Linked DNA regions of Homo sapiens: region 2 is linked to region 1. Evidence: fine-mapped expression QTL. A gene starts in region 1. The other region holds a variant in brackets. All regions are shown on one strand. Distances are between the middles of the regions. Region 1 holds the start of RNF141 (ring finger protein 141). Region 2 overlaps IRAG1 (inositol 1,4,5-triphosphate receptor associated 1).

Region 1 (15,743 bases):
CCAGTCAGAAATATCCTGTGCTAAATAAATAAAAGGAAGACCTCTGTATCACACAGTAAGCTTAGTTTGTGGATGGTTTTATAGGGTACATTTTATCTAATACCTGTATCTTTATGCTAAAGGGCAAAACTTCATACAATAGACAGGGTTTATGAATATAAATTCCAAGACTCTAAAGGAATGGTAAATGTCATTGATTACTGCTCATAAGAGTTGAAAATATAAACATAACAAAGCATTCCACTCTTATGTTACTAAATTCAGAATCCTATTTTTAAAATTCTTTAAGAATATAATCCCAGAATTAATGCTTTGCACACTACCCTTTGGATAATTTTTAAAAATAAGTAAAATGCTAGAGTTTTTAAAACCAATGACTATATTTTTATCATAAAAATACATAAATACACACAGTAAAATGTAAAATCTCCCTCTCTGCCCCCTTTTCCCACCATCTCCCAACCGAGAGACAAGCACTGGGAATAGTTTAGTTCATTTTCTACACACACACACACACACACACACACACACACACACACACACCCCACAACTATATACAGCTTTTTGTTTTATATTGTTTTGTTTTAATGAATGAAATCCAATCTTCTTAAAAGAAACCATCTTCTAAGATAACTTTTAAGACAGTCTTTATTCTTCCCAATAAAGACAGTATGTCTTCACATAAAGACAGTATATCAAGCTTATCTAATATGTTACAGATTGCTAAGCATGTCTCTTATCACCTAACACCATGGTTGTAATGCCTACGGAGTGGGTTCATATATCTTACCTTAAACTATTAATAGTGACTACAGTACTGTAAGTTTATATACTAAGTGGTCCTGAACTGCTAGTCGATTTCATTCAGCCTTTTTAGGGTTTAAGGAGAGGTAATATGGGATAACAGGAAAACTGAGATTCAGAGAGGTGGACATGCCATTAATACCTGCGTAATCAACTTGGCCCTCAGTTAAAAGGTCCAATCCTTAGCAGAGGGCCTTGCACATACTATGTGCTTAGTGAATGTTAGCTAAGTTGAAGAGACTAAACAGAGAACCTTTAAGATCTCATTTAAGAGGTGACTCCACAGGTTCTAATTATACTCCCAGGGGTTAGAAGATATACATAAATAAAGGTAGATGTGGATGTTGCTAGAGGCAGATTTAAAAGAAAGATATGACATCTGCCCAATTGTCACCAAGGGAGAAAATAAATAGCAAAAAAGTCATATTTTAAAAGCACAGTGGTCTGGGGGCATTCAGGAACAAAGAGCCCTATATATTTTCATAGCTTCTACATAGATCAATACCAAAATTGATAAATAAATTAACAAATAGAAGACTAAGTTGTATTAGGTGTACTCTTTAAGAAGGCAGAGAAATTTATATTTCATTTTAGAAATTTAGTCAAAGAGTTAAGTAGAAATTTAAAGGTGTTAATTAATTAGAAAATATGAATAAATGAAATATATTATTTCTCAGTGATGAAAATAAGCTATTACTACATATGTATTCCTCTAGCAAAATGATGACACAGTAAAAAAAAGTATATATATATATGCATGTGTGTGTCTATATACACACACACATGAATGAATTGCTTCATGTACAGAAACCTTCTCAGTGTTACCTTTGACTATCCTAGGAGTCTTTCTCTAGAGTGGCTAATTCTCATATTCCATTTTGTTATGCACCCCTTTAGTGCTTTCAAACAAGAGTCTATTGGTATAAAATTGAGATGCTGGGATGTACTACTGTATCCTAGAATTGCTTCAATATGCCTGTGCTGTGTTCCAAGTTCCATTTTAAGTTCTTTCCATATCTTCTGTCCCCATTACATACTTTTAAAAAGCTACATAGAAAGTCAACTTATAATAGATACTCAATAAGTATTTGTTAATGCTAACTGAAAACATTAAGTCTTACCAATCAACACCTCTGGTTATATCTTACACAGCCATGACATATGGGGCATACATACAACAAGGGGAAAAACGAAAAACAAAAAGAGCAAGCCTTACACATCATTAAGCTCAGCTACTCTCCCAAGAAATTCTTCATAAGTTAAGGAGCCACTCTCTCGAACCAACGTAACATGTTTTGCTACTTTTTCTGGTAACTTGTTAATAACCAACTGTGTCTGATCCGAAATTTGCTGTCCCATGATGAAAAGATGTCTTTCAAAATCCAGAGTGTTGCTTCACATAGTTTCTGTCAAATATACAGAAAAGTTACTTTTACATATTATACAAAAACGGCAATATACTCATTCTTCAAAAACATAAAGAAAAACTAGGGATACCTTTAAGTGAGAGTTGAGTAGACCTACATGAGTCTAAGGTAGAATTTAAATGACTCTGTTTTCAGATTCACATAGCTAAATGAGAAAACAGGATTCACTTATATATTATTGGGAGGGTGATGAACCTCTAATTCTTATAATTTTACCAAGTCAAAAACCACTAAAGCACATGTGCATGTGTACACACACACACACACACACACACACGCATTCAAGTAATTGTATTTAAGAGGAAGTTTGTCTACCTTCTATAATTTTCCTAAGAACATTTCCTGACTGCTTACCACATGTCAGGCTCCAAACTGTTTTCCGTATATTATGTCAATTACTTCTTACAACAATCCTAAGAGGTAGACAATATTACACCCCTACCTATTTCCCATAGACAGGGAAACTGAGCTAGGTGATTTATCTAAAGTTACACAGCTGTAAGTGGTGAAAGTGAACTCTGAATTTGTTTTTCAGATTCTAGTACTTACATTCTTATCCACTATGACATACTGGCTCACAATATATTTACATCAGCTAAATAATTTTTTGTTGAATTACTTTATTTATAGATGTGTACCTTAGTTTTAATTTTTAAAAATATATAAAAAGACTTGTGGCTTGAAAAACCTAAGAAAATTAAAATGTTAGATATTTTAACCACCTCACATTTTCTGCCTGGAAAAAGATAGCTCTTTTGTTCATTAACTCTTTTAGGTACCCCCAAAATATATATCTAATTATCAAGTTTTTAAATGCCCCCAAAATCAGATGCCCCCCCAAGAAATTCTATTTTATTTATCCATCAAAGACTATCATTTTATTTCATCCAAATTAACAACCATATCACATAAAGCAGGTGAAACAGTAATACTCTTATAGAAAAAGTTTTGGTAGGAAGATTGCTTTATCATTAATCAAAAAATAAAGCTATAAATTTAAAATATATATAACTTTATGAAGTTAGTAACCCCAAAATATGTAAAATTTCCTTTAGGTATTAAAATTTAATGTACTGTATTTGAAGTTAATTCCTTTAGTTACCTAAAATAGGAAAAGGACAATTGTAATTTAAAAAAAAAACAAAAAACAACAGTTTTGAATCTGAGCCTACTTGGTAATAATAAATATCACATTATAGAGATAAATGAAAGGAAGTTGTTGAGGAAGATCCAGGCCAAAAAAAAAAAAAAAAATCCCTGAAGTCAAATTATATGTAAATATAGCCAAGTGGATTTACAGCAACTGTATCCAAGAAGAAACAATTAAAGATCTTAGCTTAGAAGAGGTCTCTAGGGCAGTCAACAACAGTGATTGCTGAATTTCAAAGACTAGTAAAATCTCAAAGCACCATGGTGTTGGATACTTCTTTTAATTCTAAGCAAGGACAGTTTCCAAAAATAAACAAAAATTCCCCAAAACTTAACAAAAATCTCAAAAAGAACTTATAACCTGAAAAGTAGGATATAATATTAGAAAAAAAGTCTTTCCCAAGAAGGGCAGTAACTTCACAATGAGGTATACCACATATTTACCAGGTATACTACACATTGTCCTTATTTTTCTTGATCGAATCCAAACTTATGAAAACATCATCAGAAGCCAAGGGTTGCAGACTGGTATTAGGGAGCCACTGTGTTACAGGACTTTTTTAAAATTAAATTCAACAAGTAGCACGTGCCTGGTGCTTATGTTCTGGAGATAAAACAGTGAACAAAAGAAACATGGTTCTTGCCACTGTGGAGCATCCAATACAGTGGAGAAGAGACAGTAACCACACAAATAAATGTATAATTACAAAATGAGAAGTGCTAGGTGAACAAGTACAGGTGCTGTGAAAGCCTATAAAAGGGGGACTTGACCTAGTTTTGTATCAGGGAAGAAGTCCCTGGGCAAACAACATTTTACTTGAGGTCAGAATGGTCAGAGTTAGGGATTAAAAAAAAAGTAGGGAAATGGCAAAAGGAGGACACTCCAGGCAGAGGTTATGAAAAGTGCCTGAGACAGGAAGCAGCACGGTGACTTTGAGGTAATTTTTAAAAAGGCCACAAGGACTAAAGCAGAGAGGCAAAGGGAGAGGGAAACTGGCACCAAGAGTTGGGCTGTTTAACATTTTTGTTGATGACCTGAAGACTGTATGCCTGCCCAATCTGCGGATGACCAAAACTGGAATAAATGAATATTATCTAGTGAATAATAGGATCAAGACTAAAACAGACACTTACATGCTATTTAATATGACTAAAAGTTATATCCTGAAGAGCCAACTGCACAAAAACACATATGTAAGATGTGCTCAAAAGCAGTTAAAATACAGAAGGTCTGGGTTTTTGTTTTTGTGTTTTTTAAAGAGATGGAGTCTCTTTAAACAAACAGAGTTTGTTGCCCAGTCTGGTAACAAACTCCTGGGCTCAAGCAATCCTCCCGCCTCGGCCTCCCAGGCCGAGGATTACAGGCATGAGCTGCCGCACCCGGCCAAGTCTGGGGTTTTTAATCAAAATAAGTCAACAGTATAACGGGGGCAACAAGTATGCTAAAATAATCCTAAACTCTTGCTAGAAGCAGGTATCTTGAGCAAGCAGCCTACTAGTCCATTATGCTTTGCAATGGTTAGGCCACACTGAAAAGTCTGTATTCAGCTCTAAGCAGTTGGCTTTAAAGGATACTAATAAATTAGAACATATTCATGGGCATAGAAAAAAAAAGAGGTTTATTCTAGATAGTCATAGTTTGGTAACAATGAAGCAATATAAGTTTGTTTAAATATCTGAGGAGCTGTCATGTGGAAAAACAAGATTCATTTACAGAGAATGGGATGGCCACTAAGTATAGTAAGTATAAATTAGAAAGGCAGATTTCAGTTGATGATAAGCATGTCGCACCATCCAGAAGTGGAAATGGCTGCTACATGTGAGCTCCCTCTCATTGGAAGTATGGAAGTGTTTAGGTAAAGATTAGAAGTACATCTAATAAGTGTTACAGGGATTTTTACCTGGGTGGGAAGTGGAGTAGGTGACCTTTAACCTAACATTTTATTCCCAAAATGAAACTGAACCTTCCTCTAACATTCCTGTACCAATTTAATGAAAATGTAATTAAGATTCTAGTCAACCAGGCTGAAAACTTTGAATAATATCTACATTACTTAACAAAGAAAAAAACTGAACTTTTGAAATATATAGTCTCAATATTTAATATAAATACCTATGATAATTTAACCAACGTGGTATAGGGGAGATAGAATTTCTCTCCCTCTGCTCTCTGAGGTCTCCAGCTGGGCCCAAGAATTAAACTAACCTAAGACAGATTAACAGGAGAAAAACACACAAATTTTATTTAGTAATTTTTATACATACACAGGAGCCCTCAAGAAAAATAAGGACTAAAAAAAGTAATTAAGGCCAAAAGCTTACATAGTAGATTGGACAAAGGAGAAGTAAACTGTGAAAACATGACAAGACACAAGGGTTTGGGCTGGGCCAGTTAATCACAGAAAAGTGACTAGGAAGATAAGGGTTACTTTAAGAAGGCTTCTTTGAACACATTTCTCTCAGCTTTGATTGCCCACTTCTAGTAATGATAATGTCTTCCTCCTGGCATAGAGAGGACATCTTTCACATGGCTGTTTTATCTCCAGCCTTCAGGAAGAATTAGGAGGGTCAGTGGGCACTTCTTACATCTGCTGCTTTTCAATGTGCTTTTAACTCAAAATAATCCTTATGCCAAAGTGGCGTATTTTGCTACCCTACATTACCCACCAAAACCATATTTCAAAAGAAGAGTTAGTTGCTTATTTATTGAGTTATTAATAGAAAATGATCCCCTTTGTTTCAGCATTGTTTTCATCTGCTGCCCTAACTTTGAGTAAAGTTTATAATTTGAGGCAGCATATTAACTTGTTATCTTGTAACTGTACTTGGTATCTGGGAAACTTCATCACTAACTCCTTGCATTAAAATGCAACAGTATCTAGAGACTACCTGAGAGAGCCTGCAGAAGTGGTTTTCAACCTGGTTCCAGAAAGAGGGCTTGACATTTAGTTTATTTTGAAAACCATAAAATATTGATAAATATTAACATCTATCACTATATGGGTGTGAAAATAAGATATGACTCTGTGATCTGCATACAATATAAAACCACAACACAGAGTGCATGTTCACGAAAACAATCTGTTGAGGCCATCCTCTAGTCAACCACCACAGCTTTTCAGTGTCCCTCTTTGGTGACTGCACATATTTCTATCATACTATGACATTCGTTAAGTCACTTGGCCATTTCCCTCTAGTGAGCTTCTTGAGGACAGCAGCTATGGTCTGTCTTCTGGCAGATACACAAGCACTCAATAGATGTTTACTGAATAAATGCAGTAAATACCATTGGCAGTTTTTGTTTTATTATTATTCACTTAGTATTCTTTTGACTTTTGTTAATTTGGTCAGTCATCTATTAGTACTAGGTTGGAGAGAAGCAGAAGTTAAAAATATGTATGAAAGAAAATGTAAAACTGTGAAAATCTGTCATTAAATTAATGCTTATGTAAACTGGGAAACATTTACTATTTGATTTTAACAAGATACTCCCCCCTAGGCCATGCAACAGTGGTATTGCATAGAAACATAATTTGCAAACCACTGGCACAGAATTCAACAAAAGATGAATTTCTGGTCAAGATTTCTCAAAGAACTAGCAGCTCTCATATTATTGTGCCACCTATAACACAGTCATTTTTTGCAAGATAAAAATATGCTTTCAAAAAGCATTTGAAGGATTTTCTAAATAAAGAACTGTTATTTTGAAATGCACAAGATCAAGGATTCCAAAAATGCCACATTCTCTAGTGGGTGGTACATAGTGAATCACTTATTTTTCTAACAAATGAATTGTGGAAGTTCAAATATTCCTTATAAAAATATTAAAATTACATCATGGGTAACTGGCAAAGCAAAAACGAAAAAACTGCTCAAAAACTCCTAAAAATTTAAACCATAATTCATTCATAAAATAACTAAAGCAAAATGGAAAAGGCTGAAAATGCACCAAAATGACTAAATGACAAGTACTGCACTGTAGTATTTTAAAAACCTCTCTGAAACCAGTTCTCCATCAAATTTTGTATCAACCTCACCTAAAAGGATTTAATTGAAATAAACATCAATGATTTTCACTGTCAAGTCAACTTTAACATCAGTAATAAATACCAAGTACTACTGACTGGGTCCCTAAGGATATTATTTACTTTATTACTCATTGTTTACTCAAACTGTAGATCTGTAAACAGATATCAACTTTTTTTTTTCAAGACAAGTTAATATAGATACATAGTGAAATAATTAGGCCAGAGTCACTATAGAGTCCAGAATGCCTGTTCCAGAATCAAAGATCTTGATCAGAAAAAGATACATACATATATATTAGAGAGAGAAGGAGAGAGAAACTACAAAAGGATAGAGTGCCGTACTAGGAGATTAAGAATATGGATTTCTCACAGTAACAGTGTGTTTACTAAATGCATTTCATATTGGAAAAAGCATATTAGACTTGTAAGAATTCTCTCTGGACCTCCCTTGCCTTTTTGGGAAGGAAAGCGTGTTTGTATTTAGATGGGAACCAAGAAGGATCAGGCTACACACATCGAATATAAAGTTCATTTACACCAAATGACAAATATTAATTTTTGAAACATATAGTCATATTCTTGAGAAAAAGTTCTAGAAACTGAAGTCAGGCAATGTGAAAGAAAAGGATAAAAATCCATACTATTTTTGAGCTCTGAATTCAGAAAGCATCACTTCTCAGACGGGTGACTTCGACATGGAGGTGACTAATTTAGGATCGTCGGCCGGTGGCAGCTCATGCCCCCAGACAAAATTCTGAATGGGTAGAGGTCATTTTATAGCAAGAAGAATGGGCAGAAGGGAGTGAAAACGAATAAATTCGTGCTGAAGATGTAAGAATTATAAACAATTGAAAGTGTTCCAGCAGCTTTATATATATGCCAGAGGCAAGAACTGAATTAGCTGGCACCGCTAAATAGGACAGTGTCAGAATATAAAAGGTACACTACCTTTAATAAGGGGCATAGGGATCGATTTCAATAACAATCGTAAATCCACATTTTGTAACGCCGAGACAAATAACTGAAGGAATAATTTCAAAAGCTAACACAGAAGCCTTCTGCTCCTGCTGTGTAATCACTACCTTCTTATTATTAGCAAGAAAACGTTCTTTTCTTAGCCGGGTCTCAAGGTAGCAGCTAGTTTGACAAGGAAAGACCTTTGGGAAGGGTAGCAGCCTAAGCCAATTCATAAGTGTGGGGCTGGCTAAGTAGATCGACGTGGCTATTTCTGAGCTATCGTCCCAGGCAAAAGGTTTCTTATTTGGGTGTCCAGCCCGGCGGAGACCGAGCCCGCGGGCCACCCTAGCGCTCGCTCTGGCTACGCCGCCTCAGCCCCTCCTCAAGCGCACCTGGACATTTAACCAACAGCTAAGTCCGGCGGCCGAATGACTGAGCCGGCGGCAATATTCAAACAACCGTTTTGGGATAGAGAAGGAAAAACTCTCTCCGGGTCCCTCAGAACCACCCCGAGGCGGGACAAGCCACCGCCACCCCGGGCAACTGGAACCCGCCGGGCAGAAGACGGGCGTCAATAGAATGGCCTCCCCAGCCGTCCCCACGCCCCAATCCGAGGCCCGGGGAGGGCGGCGGGGCTAGGCCTGTCTCCCCGCGGAAGCCTGGCTCGGCAGCGGAGGGCCCTCTGGGGTTTCTCTTCCCAGACCCAGAGTCCTGGAGCAGCTAGCAAGGGAAACACGAAAGGACAGCGCCGCGGAGCTCACCCCAGGTTCAAGGCATCGCGCACCCTGCGGCAGCGGCTGCGCTGCCTCAGCCCACAGCTCAGACCTGCGGGTGGCCGCGACTCAGGCCGGGACCCGGTCGCACCTCTGTGACGCAAAGCCCCGCCCCCCGCGCGTTGCCGGGAGACGGCGCCCAACCTTCCTCTGCAGCGCCCCTACCGACCCGCGCTCCGCAGCTCCTGAGGGCTTTCGAGCCCAGATGGTCATCTGAGACGAGAGGTGGCGGCGAAGGAGAGTCTCGCCTGTCACGCTCCCGGAGCAGGGGCTTCATGAGGTGGCCATGGAAACAGCCTGGCAGACTCCCATCTCTCCTGGTGCCATCTCCGGAGCGGAAAGTGGAGCGCCCCGCTGGCGACCAAGGCCGCACTGAGAGCCCTGGTTTGGTCAACAGTTGGGCTCCAAGGTACCACTTCCCAGACCTCCAGCCTCCCCACTGATGATAGATACACAAAGGTCATCTTGTTTCTTTATGAGGCAATGGATTGTGTTCACCTAGCCGAGTTGTTAAGCATAAGAGAATGTATGAAAAGTAATTACAAGGTTCAAAATCCTGAGCTTTGATAAATGATAGATATGATGATGAGCACATGTTAGTGATATTACTGCTCTGCGGGACGTCTGAATCAGTAATTGCTGTCTTTTAAGCATCTGTTGTGTGCCAAATACTGCACTAGGCACTTTACGGGCATTGCTCTTGTTTAAGTCGTCTGGTCAAAGTTGCCTAGACAATAAACAGCAGAGCAAGGATTTTAACCCAGGTACAGCTGACACTGCTGCCTCTATGCTTAGCAGTTAAACTGGTTTTTATGTTTCTTGTTTGTACACCCCTCCTTCACCAGTCACTTGTAGATTCACCTTGTGAAGAGCTAATTCTTCCCTCTAATAATAATACTCTTTGACCATTTACTATATGTCAAACCGTATTTTAAGGACTTTAAAGGTATTAATTCGTTTAATCTTCACAGCAATCCTGTGAGTAGGTATTATTAATACCTTCACTAAGACACAGGCTTAGAAAAGTCGATTAACTTTTCCAAGGTCAAACAACCATTAAGGAGCAGAGCCAGATTCAAACCCAAGCAGACAGAACCCTGAACCTGTGTTTTTAATTCCTGTTTTAAACTGCCTCGGTAGTACGGTAAGACTTCATTAGCGCTAGGTCCATGCCTGTTTGTGCACCATTATTTCCCTGACAGCCAGCATGGTACTTGTTCAATATTTGAACATTTGATGAATATTTGAACACTGGAAAAGGAAAAAGCTTAAAAATGAAGTATAAATAATGATTTAATAAATTCCAAAAGATATCAAATTCAACAAGATTCCATAGTTCAGCCTAATCCGGGCCTGGGAGTTAGAAATATTACTCTGTAAAAATTGCCTTCAATTAAACATTGTATTGGAAGTTCTGGTCAATGAAATAAAAAAAGACAAATATATAAAAGGCATCCAAGTTGGAAAGGAAGTTGTAGCACTGCATTTATTTGCATAAGAAAATTGTGGAATACTACAAAAAAGCTGCTAGAACTCATAAGTGAGTTTACAAAAGTTGCAAGATACAAAATCAAATATACAAAAATCAGTTGTATTTCTATATACTAGCAATGAACAATTAGAAATGGAAAATTTTTAAATATCTCTTATCAGCAAAAAAAAAAAAAAAAAAAAAAGCAGCAAATTTGGGACAAATTTGACCAAAGATGAGAAAGACATGTATACTGAAAACTATAAAATATTATGGAATAGCAAAGACATGGAATCAACCCAGGTGCTTATCAATAGTGGATTGGATAAAGAAAGTGTGGTACATATACGCCATGGAATACTATACAACCACAAAAAGGACTAGATCATATCTTTTGCAGCAACATGAATACAGCTGGAGGCCATTGTCCTAAGCAAAATAATGCAGAAACAGGAAACCAAATACCGCATGTTCTCACTTATAAGTAGGAGCTAAACGTTGAGTACACAGACACAAAGTTGGGAACAATAAACACTGGGGATTCCAAAAGGGTAGAAAAAACTACTATTGGGTACTATGTTCACCACTTGGGTGACCTGGATCATTAGAAGCCTAAACCTCAGCATTGTTCGATATACCCATGTAACAAAACTACACGTGTACCCCCTGAATCTAAAATAAAATAAAAAACATTGTTAAGAGAAATTAAAGAAGACCTAAATAAATAGAGATACATTATGTTCATGAATCAGAAGACTGAGCATTTTTAAGATATCACTTCTGCCTAAATTGACCTACAGATTTAAGGAAATTCCAATAAAAATTCTAGCAGATTTCTTTTTGATGGAAATGACCAAACTAATTCTAAAATTTATATGGAGATGCAAAGGACCTAGGATAGTCAAGACTTTCATCAAAAAAAACAAAGTTTTGGGACTTACACTACCTGATCTCAAGACATTATAATAAGAGCTACTCAACACAGTATAGTATAGGTATGAAAATAGATAGAGTAATGGAACAGTATATAGAACCCAGAGATGTATCTATACATATGTCATCAATTGATTTTCGACAAATATGCCAAGGCAATTCAGTGGGGGAAAAGATAATCTTTTCAACAAATAAACCTGAAAAAATTGAATAGCATATGCCAAAAAACTCTTAATATCTTGCTCCTTTCCTCATACTGTCACAGGATCCTTGGAGTGTTGCTCTGCCAGCCAGAAACCTCTGTGGCCGGTGGCTCCTTTGCCCGAGTTTTGCTCAGGCCCACTGGGCTCATTCTGCCCATTTGGCCTTGCAGGCTGCACTCGGCTCATGCCACTGGCCCAGATCCCATGCCTGCCAAGGACGAGCCAGGCGCAAAGTGGTGAGGGGTGCGTGAGCAAGTGAGCGCGAGGTCTGGCCGCTGTGCACAGCTAGGCACGCCAGCTGTGGCGGGGCGGGTGGCTCCAGGTGCTGGCATGGGCGCTGGCTCCTGCAAAGCTGTGGCTGGACCAGGAGTACCACAAGCGGCTTCCACTGCTGGCACTAGGGAATGTGGTGGCACCTGGAAGCTTTGAGATGCCAGGAAATGCAGAGCCCCCAAGAGGGTGTTACAGTCCTGGCTCAGGGAGCTCTTAGGTCTGGGCTTCTCGAAGTGTCAAAGCTCTTCTCTCCTTCTCTCTTCTGTCCTTCTCATCGCTTGCAACATGGGGAGTGAGGGGGTGTTTCAGCCCTGTTTGTGTTACAGTTCTTTCAGTCCTGCCATTTGGCAGGTCCCAAGTTGTTGTCCCACATCCAGGAATAATGAGGTATGCAGACAATTGGAGGGTGAGTAGGGTGAAGAGGTGCTTTATTGAGTGACAGTATAGCTCTCAGGAGACTCTAAGTGGGTAGCTCCTTTCTGCAGGCAGGTTGTCCGGTTGTCTGCCCAGCTCTCAGCTGAGAGGAGACCCACAGTGGGTGGCTCCTTTCTGCAGGCAGGTCGTCAGGATGTCTGCTGAGCCCTCAGCAGAGAGGAGATCTGGAGTGGGTAGCTCCTACACGCAGGCAGGTTGTCCCCATGTTTCTTGAGTCTGGCTGAGCCTAGGATATTTATGGGCTCAAGAGGGAGGAAGTGCATGCTGATTGGTCCATGGGCAGTAGAAAAAGTGCCATAAGTTCTCACTCCAGTCTGAGGACCTGGCAGCCCAGCCCCCAGGCTTCAGACTCTCAGTTGCCTAAAGGTAGGGTTTCACTGAGGACCCACCCCTTTTTGCCCAGGAGCCAGTCTGCCTCATGCCACTGTCCATGGCACCAAGGCTGTTTGTGCCAGCGGGAGCCTGCAGGCCCACACTGAGCTGCCCTCAGCGCCCCCTCAGCTTCCCCTCCCATGCTCATCAGTGTCCAAAGTCCAGAGGGGGCTGAGGTGGCAGGGGGCTGGCATGTCAGTGTTGCCCCAAGCATGCACACACCTGCCAGATTGTGACAGCGTCTGGGCTTGGCCACAACTTTGCTCTGCCCCAGAAGCAGGGAGAGGCCAGACAGCAGGAGCAGGCACTTTCAAGCCTGTGGGGGCAAGGGGCTTCCTGGGCCCCTGAGAGCACAAGGATGCCCAGGTCCACAGCTGTGGTTGGGCAGCTGCAGCTGTGCCCAGGAGGGTGGGGCTCCCACCCCACCAACTCAGAAGCAGGTGGGGCTCCAGCCTGTTCCTGTTTTCATGGTTCTGTGGAGTGTGCAGCCCTGGCCAGGCCTCCCTCACTGCAGCTTGCATCTTTGCAGCAGCTGCTCCAGACGGGCTGCCACTGCCATCAATACTATATGTAAAAATTAACTAAAAATGGATCATACATCTAAATGTAAGAGCTAAAATCACAAAACTTCTAGAAGATATCTTAGTGACCTTGGATTTCTCAAAGACTTCTTAAAGATGGCACAAAAAGCACAAACTATAAATGAAAAAAAAAAAAAAGGATGAATTGTACTTCATCAAAATTAAATACTTCTGCTTTTTAAAAGACTCTGTTAAGAAAATAAAAAGGTAAGCCACAAACTTGGAGAAAGTATTTGCGAAACATATATTTGGCAAAAGACTTCTAACTAGAATACATAAATAACTCTTACAACCCAATAAGAAGACAACCCAACTTTTTAAAATGGGCAAAATATTTGAACAGACATTTCACCAAAGATTTATAAATGACAAAATAAGTGCATGAATTAATACCATTAATCATTAGGGAAATGCAAATCAGGAAAATAATAAGGTTTCACTGTGCACTGTAGCTACTAGAATGGCTAAAATTTGAAAGACAGATCATATCACATGTTGACAAGGATGTGGAACAACAGAAATTCTTGTATACTGCATGTTGGAAATGTAAAATAATACAACAATTTGGAAAAGAGTTTGGCTATTTCTTAAAAAGCTAAATATACACCTACCACATGATCTAACCATTTTACTCCTAGGTATTTACCCAAGAGCAATGAAGGCATATGCCTACACAGAGGCTTATACATGAATATACATAGCTTTAACTGTAATAGGCCCAAACTGGAAACAACCAAATGTCCATGAGTAGGTGAATGGAAAATAAATTGTGGCATATCCACAAAATGGAATATTACTAAGCAATAAGAAGGAATGGTTGATTGGTATACCTCAACAACATGGATGAGTCTCAAAATAACTATTTTGAGTGAAAGAAGCCAGATCCTCCCCCGCAATAAAAGAGTACCTGTGGTGTGACGCCATTCATATACAATTCTAGGCAATCCAAACTAATGTATAGTGACAAAATGCAGATCAGTGGTTGCCTGGGAATGCGGGAGCAGTGTTGTGGAGATGGGTGGGAGGGTAGTACCACAAAGGAGTGGGAGGAAACTTTTTGGAGTGATGGATATGTTCATCTTCTTGATTTTAAATGATGGTTTCACAGATGCATATGTTGAAACTTCTCAACTCGTACATTTTAATCATGCACAGTTTATTGTATGCCAATTATACCTCAATAAACTTGTTTAAAAAAGACATAGCTAGTTGAATTTTAAAGGGTTTTGTATTGTGGCCTAAACAGTCATGAAAAGTGCTCTGCACAAATTGCCTTCAACTTTGTAAAATAGAGCCATTACTCCTTCTTATATCTCATGGGGAGTATAGTGAGGATTGACAAGGAAAAGACTAAAAGACTAAAATATTTAAAATCAGTATTAAATTAATATTATTAATGACATCTCTAGATACCTTCTCATCACAACAGCTTTCTTCTTCTTACCTTTGCATGAGCATAATGAATTAATTAGAATGTAAAACAGAACAAGACAGTAATAAAGATTATCTTAAAAAACAAAATAGAAGAGATTAGAAATCCTCTGTGGAATAGGAATTTTGAAGCTACTTTGCAGCAGAATAAGGAAAACTTTATTTTTCTTACATATAAAAAAGTATAAGAAAAATATTTGTAGGAAACCACATATATAAATAGTAAAAGTTATGGAAGAAGAAACCTCTAAGTTTTTTATAAGAAGAAGGATCATTTTGCCATGAGTCTTGTAATTTGTAATGTATGTTCAGATTTTCATAGTTTTTTAAATAAGTATTTTCCAGTTAAAGAAAACACAGAGGCTTTGATAAATTCTAGTAAACATGGTCCTGTAGTCAAGATCAGGAAAATTGGAGACTTTTGGAATGGTATATTTTTTCTTCCATTTATTTATTTATTTATTTATTTATTTATGAGGTGGAGTCTTGCTCTGTTGCCAGGCTAGAGTGCAGTGGCACAATCTCGGCTCACTGCAACCTCCGCCTCCCAGGTTCAAGAGATTCTCGTGCCTCAGCCTCTCGAGTATCTGGGAATACAGGTGTGCGCCACCATGCCCAGCTAATTTTTGTATTTTTAGTAGAGATGGGGTTTCACTATGTTGGCCAGGATGATCTCGATCTCCTGACCTCGTGATCTGCCCGCCTCGGCCTCCCAAAGTGCTGGGATTACAGGTGTGATCCACTGAGCCCAGCCTGGTATATTTTTTTCTAGGAAAGTATGTCCAATGTCTCCTGCTTTTTTGTAAGGTCACTAAGCATCTGTGTTAGGACTGTGGGAATATATGAGGAAGACCCTGAGTGGCTATGGATTGTAAACATTTTTAACTTTCCGTATGTAATTCATAA
Region 2 (17,832 bases), 76 kb after region 1:
CTGCAAAGCCTCACCCTCCTCTGTCTCTGAGGGCTGTGACAAAGGTGCATGCGGGCCAGAGAATAAATGGTAGGAGAGAGTGACCAGGGTTCTTCTCCACAGCAAGAACTTCTGATGGCTAGAATCACAGAGTGGCAAGAAAGCCCCAGCCGACACAGAGGCATCCTTTTGAGCAGCTCCTCGTCTGTGGCGTTCCCACAGCCAGGGCTCTCCAGCTATAGGCAGTCCCTGCATCTGCATGTCCACTCGATGCTGCTGTGGCTGCTGCTCTTGCTGGTAACTAAAGCTGGCCCCATCTGAAGTCCACACAATGTAAATAATGCACAGGCCCTTTCCTGTGCTGGGGCGGGGAGGCCTGGGAGGGGTCCTACCAGCGTCACAGAACTTGGCAACAGAGCATGCCATCAATAAGCTTCTCAGGAAACACAGCTTCCTCTCTTGAACGGGTGTGAAGGGACCCCAAGAGCAAAGGTAGGGGTCAGCCATCTCTGCAGGGGGCTGGTTCTCACCCCTAGGGAATGATATGAGTGCCTTCCTGTCAGGATGAGAAGACCCCATGGCCATGAAGTCAGCGGAGTCCAGAACACGGGACAAACAGCTGCAGGGATGTTTGACACTTACAGTCCTTGTCACAACCCCACCCATCAGGCCCTTGCCTTAACTGTCATCTACAGCATACACATATGATTTAAATGATTTGGCAAAACTTGCCAAGTTTGTTTCTGACTCCTGGGTTTGTTGGGATATTATGTGAAATGCACATATTTTCATAAATTATAAACCAAACATTTTTCTATTTCAATGACTCACATTCTGCTTTTTTGCTGTAGAACACACCCACCTTATTTTTATTTTATTTATTTATTTTTGGGGACAGGGTCTCGCTCTGCTGCCCAGGCTGGAGTGCAGTGGCAGGATCACTGCAGAGGTGGCTTACTACAGCCTTGAACTCCTGGGTTCAAGCAATCCTCCTGCCTCAGCCACCAGAGTAGCTGGGACTATGGGTGCATGCCACTATACCTGGCTAATTTTTTATTTTTATTTTTTGTAGAAACAGAGTTTCACTCTGTTGTCCAGGCTGGTCTTAAACTCTTGGCCTCAAGTGATCCTCTTGCCTTGAGCCTACAAAGTGCTAGGATTACAGGTGTATGAGCCACCACACCCAGTTAGAACATACCCACCTTAAAAAAAAAGTGGGGGTCTGGGGGGAAACTCTGAGGACTCAGAGAAGTATGATTTAGGCAGAGAAGCCACATGGTATGTCTGGTGTCTGATGCAGATAACTGTGCCTTACAAATGGGCATAGGTACCCGGGGGCAGAGCTGTGAGCCTCTAAAAGGACACAGCATCTTTTTTAAGTGACTATTTGTATATCTTCTCTGAAGAAATGTCTATTTAAATCCTTTCCCCATTTTGAAAAATTGGTTATTTATCTTTTTATTGAGTGTAAGCCTTCTTTATATGCTCTAGAAACAAGTTCCTTTTCAGATAAGTGATTTGCAAATATTTCATTCTGTGGGTTGCCTTTCACTTTCTTGACACTGTTTGCAGCACAGAAGTTTTTATTTTGAGGAAGTACTATTTATTTTTAAAATCTTGTCTCTTGTGTTTTTGGTGCCATATCTAAAAAACCCAAAGACATGAAGATTTACTTATATTTTTTCTTTGAAGAGTCTTATAGTGTTCTCTCTGACATTTAGGTCTATGATCCATTATGAGTTAATTTGTGTGTTTTGTGTGAGGTAGGGGTCCAACTTCACTCTTTTGTATGTGGCTATCCAGTTGTCCCAGCACCGTTTGTTAAAATTACAATTTTTTTCCTCTGTAAATCTTACCAAAACCCTTGCATGAGTGGCTTTTTGTCATTTGTTATTTGCACATCTCAAATTATTACTTTATCACAGAGGCCTTTCCTTGACCTCCTACCCAATGCCCCACTCTCATGTCATTCTCTAGATGTGCCCTATTTTATGGTCTTTCTACCAACTTTACTCTTTCAAATCATTCATTTGGTTACTTAAATGTTATTTGTGCTTTGGGAGGCCGAGGTAGAAGGATCACTTGAGGCCAGGAGTTCAAGATTATCTTGGGCAACATAGCAAGACCCTATCTCTACAAAAAAATATTTGAAAACTTAACTAGTCATGGGTAAATGGTGTATCTGGGATTGAAACCCATGTCTCCTGGCTCAAAGCCCATTCTCTGCTGCCATGAGCTTCTGGTGACCCTTATGCCTTCATGAACTGTGCTCACCTAAGAACCCCACCTGGCCTTTGAGTTGAAAACACCCAGCCTGGCCTTTCATTATTCTTTTTGTTTCGAATGCATTATCCCTATCTAGACAATTGGACTTTGGCCCTTCTGGGTTCAAGAATTAAGACTGGTGTTCCTCTGTGTCCCACCTAGAATCCAACACAGGGGCCACTCGGTACAGGGCCTTCTGTAACCCACATCCTGATTTTACCTTCCAGGGAGACTCCTGTGGACCCGCAGTTTGCGCAGCAGCACATCAGAAATATTAGGCATGACATCTAAGCCACTCTTTGACTCTTCTTCCTCAATAGCTGGGGAGAGTTCAGAAGGAAGCCCTGAAAAAAAAGTGCTTACTTATAAAATGTCTCTTTGAAATCACAGTAGTACTGTTGGCAGCTAGCTTCAGGAGCTTTGACATTTATAAGTATCTAGTTCTATGTTAAGGGCTTTTTAATTGTTATCTTACATTATTCTCACAATGAGCTAGAACTTAGTCATCCCATTTCACATGTAGATAAGCCAAGGCTCAGCAAGGTTAAGTCACTTGCTCAAGATTACAGAACTAGCAAATGACATGGCCAGACCTCAAGGTCTACCTGCTTCAAATGTTATGTTCTTCCCTTTGCTTCCCACAGTATTAAGCTGGCAATTGGAAGCTGGTTGGCTCTTTGGCTATAATGTTTGGGAAAAAAACCTGCTCCTTGGCAGGCTTCTCAGGAGACCTGTTGTTCAATTATTCCTCCTCGGATAAATTAAAATGTTCTATATTATGTATCCTACTTAGAAATTAACATCTGATTCCATACCCCATAGATAAGAGATTTTCCAGAGTAAACCTAAGGTTGCTAGATCTTTTACAGATCTCAGAAACATAAATGCCTCCTAGTCAACAGAGACAATGAACAGCTTTTTGTTTTTTAAACTTCTAAAACTATCTTGGGTCTGTGCTTTGAAGACAGAATGAACAAACCAAGTATTCTCTTTTCCATAAATCTTTCTCCTGTTTGAAAACAGCTCCTGTGCCTCTCTAAAGCTTCTCTTCTCCAGACTCTAGCTCCATTTTTCCAACAAGCTCACTGTGCTCCACTGTGGCCCATGGTCTCTAGATACCATCCCATTCCTGCACACATTCTGGTTTGTTGCTGTTACAGAGGCCCAGATGTTCTCTAACAAGATCTTAGCACAGGAAGACTTTGGTAAATGTCCCTGGCATTGATGTTTGTTATTCATGCAGCATAGATTTTGTGTGCCTGACTACGGGCTTACAGTACACTTAGCATTAAGCAAAACTCTCAACCTCTTTAGTTGACCCAAATCAGTTATCCTCATCCTGTATAATGGTTACTTTCCATTTGCATGTAGAACTTCATATTTATCCATGTTTTACTCTTTCTCCTGGATTTTAACCTGGTAGCTTTCCAATCTGCTCAATCATTTTCCAGGATCCTAGGCTAGGCTAGAGACCAGGACTATAGGCATAGTTGTAGCCACCTGAAGAGTTAAGACTGGGAATCATGTGAATAGAAAGAAGTCTCACCAAAGGAGACCATGAAGAGACAAGAGGCTATCTAGTTTGGCTCAAGGTAAAATATGTTTAAATACTTTGAGCTTGCCAGTAAGAGAATGGTAGGCATGGATTCCTTGGTACTCAAGGTAGCCAAGTAAGCTGGAGGATCATCTGTCAGAGATGGGTCAGTCAGCAATTCTTCTTTGGATATGAGATTCAACTAGAAGTTCTCTTAGCTACCTGTTACCTCTCTGGTTCTGTCCTGGTATTTATAGCTCTCTGACAAGGTTTCTGTGGTAAACCTTGTGTCACCCCTGGCATCATTCTACCTTTATGTATGTATCCCTACCACACTCAACAGAGAGTCAACTGAGTAGCAAGCTCCTGAGATATCTATAGGATGATCGAAACATATGAGGTCTAATAATCAAGTGAAATGCATATCAGGGTTTTTGCCTAGAAAAGTTTCCCAAAATGGTGCTTGAAGAGTAATGCCAGAATTGGTGGATTCTAGGAACCAACCACCTTCCTCCTGAATTCAACCAAATTAACAACAAAAAATTTCAGAACAAATAAAAAATACACAAGAAACTCTAAGATACAAGAAAAGGCAATAGTCTTTAAAAATAGTGACTAGAGAAAGAATAAAAATTACTAGGAATAAATGTAGAGCTTCCACCCATGATAACCCTTTCTTCTTCTCCAAAGAATCAGTACTGAAAGGAAGATGGGAGAGAAAAAATTCTTACAAAGAGTTCAATACCACAGAATAGAGAGGGAAAGGGATGGAGGGGGCAAGTAGGCAGTTGTCAGAGGAGATTCAGAAAGTTTCCCTAGAATAGAAGGTTCTCCATTCCATCTTACCAGCATTTCGAAGAGAGAAAAAACTGCCTGGGCTGCCTGCCATTTTGCTTTTCTTACTGATGAGAAGAAGAGAGGAAAGGCAGAATGATCGCACAGAACACAGAGTGGATTTTCTTGAATGATATGAAGGGATTTACAAGGAAGGAAGACTAACGGTAAAGTAAATAAAACACGTCCCTCTGAAGGAGTGAATGGCAGGAGACACATGGAAAGCCCCAACCACCATGTTCTCCCCCGACTCCTGAAAAACAGTGGCTAAACTCCTTGGATTTGCCGTTTTTTCCTTCCTTTCTTAGCAGAGGAGTAGCCGTTGGGAAGCATTGGGTCAAGTCTGGAAAATAAACCTACGGACAGCTTGTCTCTACAATTCCAACCTAAATTGGTGAAACAATCTGAAACCCACTACTAACCACCTCCAAAGGAATAAGATATGCCCCCGATTTGGTATAACAAACTCACGTTTTGGACTATGAACAGAGTTACGGAAAAAGAGAAGAAACCAATTCTACAAACAGCTCTATCTTAACTTCCCCTTTTCCCCACCACCTAAGCAGTAACAAAACAAACACAAAATATACAATCCTCAACTAAAGCACTAAAGGGAAGGCTAAGAGATCCCAGCTAAGGTAGGAAGGAGTCAACAAAAACTAACCTACAATACAATATATCTAGGGAAAGGGAATCAAGGTAGAAATATACAAATCAGAAAAAAATAAAAGGAAAACAGATGGCATGGCAACTATACAAAAATACTATAGACAAAAGAGGAAGGAAGGTAGAAAGGAAGGAAAAGGGAAATGTGCAAGAGACAGATGTCAGGATGGAAACATAGTTGCAAGAAACACATCAAAAAATGCAAAAGTATGCTTCTGTGCAAAATATATACCATAAATACTTTGACTCTAGAAAAAATAACCTGAAAAAAAATTAAGAAATTAGAGTTGGGATGAGAAGATCATGCAAAGATGGAAGATGATTGCTATTTAAGGAAACAAATTAAAGACCAAAATAAAAGGACTAATCAAGAAATTGGGAAATATACAACCAACCAATTTATTGGAAAAATGAAGGAATAAAGCAGATATAGCTTCAAGCTGAATTAGAGGAGGGTGGTAGAGATTGAGTAATCATAACGAATGCAAAGAAGGAAAGAAAGATTGAAGTATATGGAGATAAAATAATGGACCTGGAGTTGAGACTCTGATGACCCATCTATGCATTATGTTGTCTCCGAAGCAGTGAACAAAACAAATGGAACAAAGGACATATTCAAAGATATAACAGAAGAAAAATGTTCCTCACTTGAGGGGAAAGTTGAACCCTTCAGGTTGACAGACCGCATCATGTTAAAAAATATATTTAAATGCTTCATACAAAAAAAAAAAAAAAAACCCAGACATCTACATGGGAAAGTGAAGATTAAGAGGTGCTGGAAATCAGCTGGTCCCAGCTTTCTCCATAACTTTAAATACAGGGGAGCAACATCTACGCAGTTCCAAGGAAAACAGTCAACCAAGAATTTTGTAACCACACAAGCTGTCCTTCAAGAAAAGACAAAATTTTCAAATGTGATAGAACTCAGGGAACACAGCACCTCTGAACTCTTTCAGGAAAATTGTTGGAAAACAAAATCCAGCTAAACAAGACATAAATCGAATAAATTTGGGAAAGGGACCAGTGGTGAACATGAAATCTTTTTACATTTAAGTCTAAGGCTAAATAACTGTGGAAACCATGGTTACAGAATATGGAATGTAAATGTTATAACCTTAATGATGTACAAAGAAGAATTCAAGATGTGTAGAGGTAGAAATGGAAATGTAGGAAGAAATGTGAAGGTGGGAAGATATTCGGCCATTCTCATCTTTTCCTGCAGGAAGTCAGTAGGTACCATTGTAGTGACTACATGTTCTTATCTTCCGTATTCTTGATGTTCTGTCACTTGGTGCCTTAATCCTGGAGTGACAGCCCCTCTCAAGGCTAGCTAATTCCTAGAAACAACTCTCCTTCAAGTGTGTCTTTGAAATACAAACCAGCCAATCCAGAACCCACACCTGTAAACATCACCTTTATCAAATTCTCACGCACCAAGCCAATACTCCCCCTAAATCACCCCAGGGCCAGTACCTGACAACTACGGGCCACCCTATAGCCTAGGTCCTGCCAAAATTATTCAAACTAGCCAACCCTAAACATACTGAGGATACCTACCCTGCCTCTACCTTTCCTTTCCAAGAAAACCCCAGTAAAGGCTTGGGGCCATCTCTCCCCTCACCACTTCTGCCTTCTGACCCACCCTAGCCCTTCCCCAAGGGGCTCTGTATGATGTGCCACACATCCTGCTATTAGGGATCTGTGAGTATAAACCTATTCCTTCATGAGAATCATTTGTGGGTCTCTGTGTCATACCATACCTGATTAAAACAAATGCCAGGTCCAAAGTTTAGATTAAATTTAAAACCTATAATGCAAAAAAACTACCTCATAATTTATAGATTTCATGCCATCCCCATCAAGCTACCAATGACTTTCTTCACAGAATTGGAAAAAATACTTTAAAGTTCATGTGGAACCGAAAAAGAGCCTGCATTGCCAAGACAATCCTAAGCCAAAAGAACAAAGCTGGAGGCATCATGCTGTCTGACTTCAAACTATACTACAAGGCTACAGTAACCAAAACAGCATGGTACTGGTACCAAAACAGAGATATAGACCAATGGAACAGAACAAAGCCCTCAGAAATAATACCACACATCTACAACCATCTGATCTTTGACAAACCTGACAAAAACAAGAAATGGGGAAAGGAGTCCTATTTAATAAATGGTGCTGGGAAAACTGGCTAGCCATATGTAGAAAGCTGAAACTGGATTCCTTCCTTACACCTTATACAAAAATTAATTCAAGATCAATTAAGGACTTCAATGTTAGACCTAAAACCTAAAAACCCTAGAAGAAAACCTAGGCAATACCATTCAGGACATAGGCATGGGCAAGGACTTCATGTCTAAAACACCAAAAGCAATGGCAACAAAAGCCAAAATTGACAAATGGGATCTAATTAAAGAGCTTCTGCACAGCAAAAGAAACTACCATCAGAGTGAACAGGCAACCTACAGAACAGGAGAAAATTTTTGCAATCTACTCATCTGACAAAGGGCTAATATCCAGAATCTACAAAGAACTCAAACAAATTTACAGGAAAAAAACAACCCCATCAAAAAGTGGGCAAAGGATATGAACAGACACTTCTCAAAAGAAGACATTTATGCAGCCAACAGACACATGGAAAAATGCTCATTATCACTGGCCATCAGAGAAATGCAAATCAAAACCACAATGAGATACCATCTCACCCCAGTTAGAATGGCGATCATTAAAAAGTCAGGAAACAACAGGTGCTGGAGAGGATATGGAGAAATAGGAACACTTTTACACTGTTGGTGGGACTATGAACTGGTTCAACCATTGTGGAAGACAGTGTGGCGATTCCTCAAGGATCTAGAAGTAGAAATACCATTTGACCCAGCCATCCCATTACTGGATATATACCCAAAGGATTATAAATCATGCTGTTATAAAGACACATGCACACGTATGTTTATTGCAGCACTATTCACAATAGCAAAGACTTGGAACCAACCCAAATGTCCATCAATGATAGACTGGATTAAGAAAATGTGGCACATATACACCATGGAATACTATGCACCCATAAAAAAGGATGAGTTCATGTCCTTTGTAGGGACATGGATGAAGCTGGAAACCATCATTCTCAGCAAACTATCGCAGGGACAAAAAACCAAACACCGCATGTTCTCACTCATAGGCGGGAATTGAACAATGAGAACACTTGGACACAGGAAGGGGAACATCACACACCGGGGCCTGTGGTGGGGTCCGGGGGATGGGGGAGGGATAGCATTAGCAGATATACCTAATGTAAATGACGAGTTAATGGGTGCAGCACACCAACATGGCACATGTATACATATGTAACAAACTTGCACGTTGTGCACATGTACCTTAGAACTTAAAGTATAATAATAAAAAAAAGTATATTACTAAGTGAAAAAAGCAAGGTTTGGAACACCTTGTATAATATACTACGATTTATGTTTAAAAAATCCACTTTTGGCTGGGCGCGGTGGCTCTCGCCTGTAATCTCAGCCCTTTGGGAGGCCGAGGCGGGCGGATCACGAGGTCAGGACATCGAGACCATCCTGGCTAACGTGGTGAAACCCTAGCTCTACTAAAAATACAAAAAATTAGCCCGGCGTGGTGGCGAGCGCCTGTAGTCCCGGCCGAGGAAGGAGAGCGGCGTGAATCCGGGAGGTGGAGCTTGCAGTGAGCTGAGATGGCACCACTGCACTCCAGCCTGGGTGACAGTGAGACTCCATCT[CA/C]AAAAAAAAAAAAAAGAAAAATCCACTTTTACATATATGTCTATATTTAGAAATGCTTGGAATATATCTAGAAGTTACACTAAAACATAGTGACAGTGGTTGCCTCTGCTACTGGGGGACAGAGATGTAATGAGACTTACTTTTTCCTATGTCTCATTTTGTACTTTTTGAATTTTGTACTATGGACATGATTATTTATAAAAATTGAATTAAAACTCATACCAAAGCAAAAACAAAAAACAAAAAACAAAAAACAAAAAACTACCTCAGTAACTCCAAACCCTTTATGCATTTCATAATACATTTTTTATACTTTTAGAAACCAATTTCTCTTCTTTGGAGGAAGCAGTTACCAAAATTCAGCAAGTCTTATAGTTTCACTTCAAGTTCAATTAAATTCTAATAGTTTTAATTTCAAACAAGTATATCTAGTATAATCTCCCTCTTTTTCCCTTCCTCCTTCTGTATTAGTGGGGAAGGAGGTGTTTAGTGTAAGCTATTTTTACTTTCTTCCTTGTATTTTTCACTATTGGTTGAATTTTTAGATATGAACATAAGCCACTTTCAACAAAAAGTAATAAATTTATTTTCAAATATATCTCCCAGGACTAGCTCATTCCAATGAAAATATTTGTTTCTGACCATGTCAGGGACTTGGAAAAATTACTTTTGGAGCTCTGAAAGATGCTCTGAGTCCCAGGATGGTTCCTAAAAGTCAAAGCTGCTAGTTGGGGATAAACTTTTTTTTACCTCTTTCTTCTCAGGGAGGCCTCTTTCCTGCCCAAGACCTGAGGCTCTGAGTCTAGACTGGGGGTTTTGGAAGGACTGTCCATTCGATGTACTTCTCTGCCTCAGCCTACGTGTCCCTCAAAATCCAGGTCCAGATAGCCAACTACCTTCTAGACGTTGCCACCTGGTTAAGGAGAATAAAAATCATTTCAAGAGCCACCATTTACTGAACATCAACTATGCAGTAGATACACTTTGTCATTTCTTACAATAGTACTGCAAATAAAAAATAGCTTAAACACCTCCTTCCCCACAAATACAGAAGGAGCAAGGGAAAAAGAGGGAGATTATACTAGATATACTTTTTTGAAATTAAAAGTATTAGAGTTTAATTGAACTTGAAGTGAAGTGAAACTGTAGGACCTGCTGAATTTTGGTAATTGCTTCCTCCAAAGAAGAGAAATTGGTTTCTGAAAGTACAAAGAATGTATTATGAAATGCATTTTCTGGAGAAACTGAAGCTCAGCTGAGTTAAAGTGATTTACTAGGGTCCAGCTTATCAGCAGTACAGCCAGAATGCAAAACCAGGTTTGTCTGTTGCATTCAAGCTGCTTTCCGTGGGCATTTGACATGTCCAAACTCAAATTCACTGTCTTCCTTCTCAAGCAAACTCCTCCTCCTGTCTCACAATTCATCACCCTCACAACCATGCAGACAGGTGCCTGGTGGTATTCCTGGTCTGCCTCTCAACTCCATCTCCTCATCAAGTCCTGACAAGCTGATCTCCAATAGCTGTCAAACTATCCTGTCCACATTTACTACCACCTCATTACCTCTCACCAGGCTATTTCCCTATCCTTTTACCTGGTGTCTCCCTGTCTCTAGCCTCTGCTGTTTCAGGCCAGCTCTCACAATCTGTCCAGAAGAATTATTCTAAAATATAGATTTGATCCTGATGCTTCCTTACCTGCAGGCTTCTCTTTCCAAAGTGTCCTAAATGAAATTCAAACTCATTAATTGGCCTTCAAAGCCTTCAATTTCCTTGGTCTCAGCCCACTGTTCCCACCTTGTTGCCCATCTCTCTGGGACGTGTAGCTCACACTTAGTTCACATGACATTCCTTCTGTTCCTGAAGTATGCCAAGCACTAGAAGATGCCTACATGCTTTTGCTTCTGCTGTCCCCCTGCTTGGGATGACTTTCTCTTCCCCAGCTCAAGGTGGCTCCTCCTGAAAACCTTCCCTGACTCAACCCCACTGAGCTAGCTGCTTCTTCCTCTTTGTTCCCAGGTACTTTATGGCCTGTTAAAGTTTTATCACAATTTATCGTAGTGACTTTGTCTATTCTTATGTTTCCTCTCCTAGACAGTGAGCTTATTCGTTCATACATTTGTTTAATGTTTATTGAGTGTTTACTATGTCCCTGGCAATGAGCTGGGAGCTAAGGATACAATGCTAAGCAAAACTGACATGCCACATCCTCTGGAGCTCATTATTCAGGGGAACAGAGATTAATCAGAGAAACATCCAAACAATTTCACACTGAGAGATTTTACAAAGGAGAAGGGATCCGAAGGTACCAGCAAACCCTTCCCAAGAAAAGTGACATGAGCAGATATCTAAAGATTGAGTTGGGAGTTCATTAGGCAAAGAGGGAGAGAGGAAGAACATTCCATGCAGAAGACAGAATGTGCCATGCGTAAGAAGAGGAAAGAATGAGCTGCCGAAGGCAGGCCAAAATATTGTGAGTGAGAGTGAGTGTGGCCCTAGAATATGCTGGGGAAGTGGGTGGGGTTAACTATTCAGGGCCTTGTAGGTTCTACTGAGGATTCAAGTGCTCTTCCTAAGAGCAGAATGAAGCCTCTGAAGATGCTGAAACAGATTTGCCTTCTAGAGATCCCTGCGGCTGCTGTGTTGGCCATGGTGTGAGCTGGGTTGGGGGTTGGGAGTGCAGGGAGAGGGGACCAGGTTGCAGGCTGTTGAGTTAGCCAAGGGGACTGATAATGGTAGCTGGGACAAGGCCTTCTCCCTGATGGTGGGGCCTGAACCCTTTTCACTTAATGCATCCCCAGCACACAGCCTAAGAACTGGCCCACAGTCAGTCTCACATATTTGGCTTGAAATAACCTGCAACTGATCAAAGATCAAAACAGCATACAATATAGTTCCTGAGAAGGGAACTGATTGGGTTGTTGGAAAGACTAGATGCAGCACAGAAATGAGCCTCCCAGTCCTCACAAACTGAAGGAGAGCCAAAATTCTTCAGACTCCAGAATGTTCTGATAAGTATCTTTTCCCATTTCTCAAAGGAACAGCCAACAACCATCATAAGAGACTGGATTTTTCCCCATGAGTTCATATGCAGGGCTGTATTTAGTGCCTATAAATACAATCTGAGCCAGCTCTCATAAAATGCTCCCAAAGCCTTTTATCCTGGGTATGGGAGGGGACGGGGCTCTTTGATGGGGCTTTCAGAATATAAGAAAAGAAAGTCACAAGTCTGCAAGTATTCATTAAACACGGAGGGTTGCCCACCACATCTCTAGCACTGTGGAGCACAGTGTACAAGAATATCCCATTTGGTTGGCAAGATAGAGTTCTACAACCTAAATGACAGAAATGAAAATGTATGCCAGGTTCCTGCTGGAATAAAGACCAGTATCACATGCAAACATTACAGCAGCTTAGTGAAGTAGGTACTGTTATTAACCTCCTTTAAAAGATGAACAAACTGAAGCGTGGAGAGAATTAGAACCTTGACCAAGGCTATGCAGCTGGTAAGTGATGAAGTCTGAGCTCTTAAGCATCCAGACCCTAGAACTGAGAGAAAATGAGAGGGAGTGTATATTGTTGGACACTGACCATGGTTAATTTTATTTTTAAAATTTGGTGCTTATAGGAGTCACATTCATTTGCCTGATAATTTTACTTCTAAGATCCATCTTATGCCCTATTAATATTGGATAATAAAGTTTTGCTGTAGGTAGTGGATGTCTAAATTGGTATAATTTTGTAAGCTAATCTGGCAGTGTGCACATATACATTTAAAAGTAAATACTTTTAACCAATCAATTGCAAGTCTAGAATAGTAGCCCATGGAAAAAACAGATTTCTATAAAGATCTATGTAAGATAGTATTCATTATAACAGTGTTTTTAATAGAGAAAAAAAGTGGAAATATTATTACAACTGGGGAGAAGTAGTATTTTTATAATGATTGAAATAATAGAAGACTTCTCAAAGGGAAAGATAGGCAAACATGATTATGTAAAATCTTTACAATTCCTCTAAAATAACACAAAACGTATTAAAAAGCAAAAAAAAGATTGAATGAAAATATATTAAAATACAGCCCCCCCCAAAAGAAAGAAAGCCAATTAAGGGCTAATATCTATAATGTATCAAGTTTACATATATTACCAACAAAAACCAAACAAATCAACGAAAAACCCCAGACCTAAATGGGTACACGGGCAAAGATGTAAGAAGTTAAGTCACCCAGTAAGAAAACAAAGTGACTATTTTAACATTTTAAGTTTGAGCTTCCTAGCAAATTAATTGAAATAATAATGAAATTTCACACTAATAATAATAAACTTAAAACAATGACAATTATTGATTATTCTTACTATATTCTGAATAATAAGGAGCAGAAGCAAACACCAGCACGGGTAATGCGTAAGAGAAAGATGTCCATTCAGTCTTTGTCAGTAGCGTTATTCATTGTAAGTAATTTGGGAAATGCAAATGTTTCTACTCTTTAACCTTGTGATTCTCAAGTCTGAACACTTATCTCAAGGGAATGATTTAAAGGAAGAAAAAAGAACAACTAACGGTCCATAATTGTTTATACTAGCATTGTTAATCCTAGTTCAAAGAACAATAGATAGGTCAATACAAGAGGAACTATGCACCCATTAAATCATAACTGAGGAGAAATTGCTGAGTATAAAATAACAAGTAAAAAAAAGAAGCTGTATCTATTCATCAAATCAACTGAAAACATTATAAATATGGGCAAATATTGCAAAGAAGAAAAATTGTTAGTTTTTCAGAATTGATGGGGTTGTGGGTGAAATTTTAAAGTGTTTTTTCCAGTGTTTTAAATATGCTTTAGTAAATTTAAAATTATAATTAGAGAAGTATATGCTGCATTTTCAAAAGATCTCTTTAAAGATGGTTATTTAAAATATTTTGCCCTTGGGAAAAAACACTGTTTGAAATTTTACTTCTGGGAACCTTCTTATTAATGCTGAATAAATAGGTAGGTGTAAGTTACTACAGTTCAGACCAGGGGCTTCCACCATTGTTAGTGACATCCTGGACACATTCACCCAAGAATCCATAGGGCTCTTATGCTGAGACTGGCCCCCAGCAGCTTGAAGCGGGGCAAGGATTTTCAAATGGTGCTCTGTGAAGCCTGGGTCCCTGGAGGTACCTTGGGCCCACAGTCTCAGAAGATGAAGGATCCAAGCCCTTCTATCCCCTTCAACCAGAGCAGCCCCATTTGCATCTCCCCAACACGCTGGCCTCCTACAGATCAGCTTGTCTGAAATGTTGTGCAGCTTAAAAAAAGTTTTAAAACTGTTCATGAGATGGCCAAACCATGAGATTTGGAGTCAGGAGATCCTCGGGCCTCAGTTTCCTCAACTATAAGAGCAAGAATCCCTGCCCCTCTTAGCTGACTGGGAAGATTACATAAAATCAGAGGTAACAAAATGGTTTATACTGTGGAAAATGCTATGGGAAGTTTATTAATTAAGATTGAATTAAAAGGACTAGGTGACACGGATGAACCTTGAAGATGTTTTACTAATTGAAATGAGCTCGACACAAAAGGACAGATACTGTATGATTCCATTTCTAGGAGGGATCTAGAAGAGTCAAATACATAGAGACAGAAAGTAGAAGGTGATCACCAGGGGCTGGGGAGGGAGGGAATAAAGAGTTATTGTTTTAATGAGTATGGCATTTCAGTTTGCAATGATGAAAACGTTCTAGAAATGGATAGTGGTGATGGCTTCATAATATGAATGTACTTACTGCCACTGAACTGTATACTTAAAAATGGCTAAAATGGCAAGTTGAATGTTATATATATTTACAATAAAAAATAGTCCCCCACCCCCTCTGAAAAAGGGAGTACTATATAGAGTAAAATACAAAAGAAAGTCAAGAAAGTAGAAGATTGCAGAGCTGGTGGGACTAACCCACTGCTTTAAGGAACAGGTACCATATGACTCAGAGAGGAGGGAGATAGCCCAGCAGGAGGGAGATGCCGCGGGGACAGAGGCACAGAGGCTAGAGGGTGAGTGGCCACAGAGAAGAGGCTCTGGGAAGAGGGAAGAGCCAGGAGCCTGGCCTGTTGGAAACACTCATCTCTCTCCACTCACCCATGCCTCTTTGCCCACCTCATGGCACTATGGTTACAGTTACAAATTATTTTCATGTACCTATCTCAATGCTCCTGCCACATCTTTTTAAAAATGTTTCTTTTGAGACAGGATCTCACTCTGTACCCCAGAGCGAGACCCTAGAGTACAGTGGCACGATCACAGTTCACTGCAGCCTTGACCTCCCAGGCTCAAGCGATCCTCCCACCTCAGCCTCCCGGGTAGCTGGGACTACAGGTGTGTGTCACCATGCCCAGGTAATTTTTGTATTTTTTGTAGAGATGGGGCTTCGTCATGCTGCCCAGACTGGTCTCAAAGTCCTCAGCTCAAGCAAGCCACCTCCCTCCCAAAGTGCTGGGATTACAGGTTCACCTAGCCCCCTGCCACATCTCATACAATTTCATTCGTTCATTCAACAAATACCTATGCAGGCCCTAGTAGTGCCAGGCATTGTTGTAAGCAGTGGACACACACACACACACACACACACACTCCTGCCCTTGGGGGCTTCTTCTCTAGGGATAATAGCTGACACCTAGATAACACCTGTCATGTACCAGGTATTGTTTTAGGTACTTTATAGATATTAGCTGCTTTAATCTCCATAATCACCTAAGAAGGCAGGTACTGTTCTTAGCCTGGTTTTACATGCCCAGGGAGGTTGAATAGCTTGCCCAGGTCACCTGAGTGGTAGCAGGGCTTACAGTTCCAACTCGTGGTGGGGCTCGACATACTCATGCAGGAGAATGGGGCCGAGGAAGGGTGTTGGGGGCACTGGGAGCAGGGCTGGACTTGCCCAGCTAGATCTAGAGGGGTCAGAACCCTACTGAGAACATCGGCAGAGGTGAGTGCAGAGAGGGAGGCAGTGCGGGGGCTGAAGCCTCATTTTCAGAACCATTTTCCCCGCCATGGTTCTGGCAGAAGGTGGACAGGGAACCAGAGGCTTGGAGGAAGGGGCCTGCAGCTACCCAGCAGGGCAGGGCTGGGGTATGGACTTTGTGGTGACAGCAGATTAGTAAGCAAGAGATGGCCGTGATGCCTTGAAAAGAGGAACTCTTCAGTTTGGGCAGCTTCCTGGGTGTACGAGGAAAAGGAAGTGTCAAAAGTTCAGGCCTGAGGCACCCTTCCAGGCCCACTAGATGCCAGCATGGCTTAGGGAGGGCTGACAGCGAGGCCTGGGGGCTGGTTGGAAGGAGGCAGGTTTGGAGGTGCTGAGCGGGCAGAAGACACAATCGGATTCATTCATTCACCAGCAAATGTTTCCTGAGGAAGACACAGGAAGTCTTGTGTTTACACATTCACCTTCCTTGATCTGGCACAGACAAATCAGCACTCGCTGAGACAGCATCTGCCCCAACCCCACCTACCTTTTTCCTGCTCAGCTGCTTCACTAAGGTCTGGAAGCTTGAGCCCCACTAAGTTCTGATTTCTCATCAGGATGTGCTCCTTTGTGGTAAAAGAAAGAGATAACAATTTCAGATGATGACACTGGGCTGGGCTGTTCTCTTGGCTCTGTCTATGGTTCTGCGACCACTATCTTAGGTGGGAAAGCGGGGCAGCCTGAGAGGTGGGTGGGCAGGCATGGCATGGTGAGGCCTGAGAAGCACCAGGAAATAGTTCCTCTCCCAGTCCGTGAAGGTGCCTGAAACGCCACTGTCAGCACCACTTTCCATGGGTCAGGGACTACCCTTGGCATGGTCTTTTTAAACAAGTCTGTGGGCTTCAGGGTAAATGAACTGCTTGGCCTCACTGTGGCTGAGGTTTGCAAAGGACACACAGGGGCAGAACTAAGGGCTCTGGGACAGGAGGGTCCCCTGGGTGTGTATGGCGCTGCTCCTGGAAACAGCTTTGGCGATCTCATGGCTGGCTGGATCTTCCTGCCCTGTCATTCCGGGCAGTGACTGCTCACTTCCAGGAGCTGCGATTGCCCCACACACTCAGGTCATCAATGGCCTTTTATGGCACCTCTTGAGTTTTTAAACTCTCCAGAAAAGTGAGGCCTGAGAATTGCTGGCTTAGGGCCTCAGCTGGCAGAGCCCGGGGAGAGATGGGATGTGGCCCAAGTGGGCTCACACCTGCTCTAAGCCAATTAGCACCAGACCAAGGACCTGAGTGGAGGCACCTGGCAGAGCTCCTTGCCCCTGTGACTTATGGATCTTCAGTCTGCTGTGTGGCAGAGGGCACTTGGGAATGGTTTGTCCCCCGAGAAGGGAGGAAAGGAAGGGGCCAGCAGAGGGTGCTCATGATCCAAGTGGAAGTCATGGTCAAGGACCCTTTACCCATTTGGTTAGCAAGCCAGAGGCCCACAGCCCATCAGCTTCAGCACACTGGAGTCGGGTAGGGGCTGGGCACTCAGGTGCCAGGGTAGTGGTTAGTGACATGGGGCCTCCAGGTTCCCTGTAACTTCTCTGGGTGGGCGAAATCTGCAGGAGTGTAGGGAGTGAGGAGGCTCTGATAACCAGAGGCCCATGAAGGCAAATCCCTGGCTATCGGCCCCTTGGCTCCAACTTCCGCTAGAGATCCGGGACTGTGGCAACTCCTCTGGGCCCTGTGCTGTTTGATCCGCTAGTTAGTTGGGTCTTTCTGACTAGGAGGAGTTTTGTGTGTAAAATGTTAACATCAGCAGCCACGCCCCAGCTCCCCTGTGCCTCCAGTTCAGAGCATCATGAAGGTATCTGAATAGGA

What was found.
Region 2: its variant is fine-mapped to the expression of RNF141 in lymphoblastoid cells (TwinsUK, PIP 0.95).

What each region holds. Positions count from the first base shown.
Region 1 is chr11:10,531,996-10,547,738 of GRCh38, forward strand. It overlaps RNF141 (ring finger protein 141), which reads right to left and starts at 9,192. Exons shown (of 6, transcript NM_016422.4): 1 at 9,127-9,192; 2 at 2,021-2,210. The coding sequence starts at 2,163. It overlaps IRAG1-AS1 (IRAG1 antisense RNA 1), which reads left to right and starts at 9,241. Exons shown (of 4, transcript NR_046375.1): 1 at 9,241-9,547. RefSeq lists an enhancer at 9,268-9,377.
Region 2 is chr11:10,607,264-10,625,095 of GRCh38, forward strand. IRAG1 (inositol 1,4,5-triphosphate receptor associated 1) reads right to left here. Exons shown (of 21, transcript NM_130385.4): 10 at 16,515-16,593; 11 at 2,465-2,588. Among named protein-coding and RNA genes, the nearest start is that of LYVE1, 48 kb to the left of the region's middle. RefSeq lists a silencer at 10,255-10,455 and an enhancer at 16,192-16,321. The variant CA/C (reference allele first, on the strand shown) is at 9,027.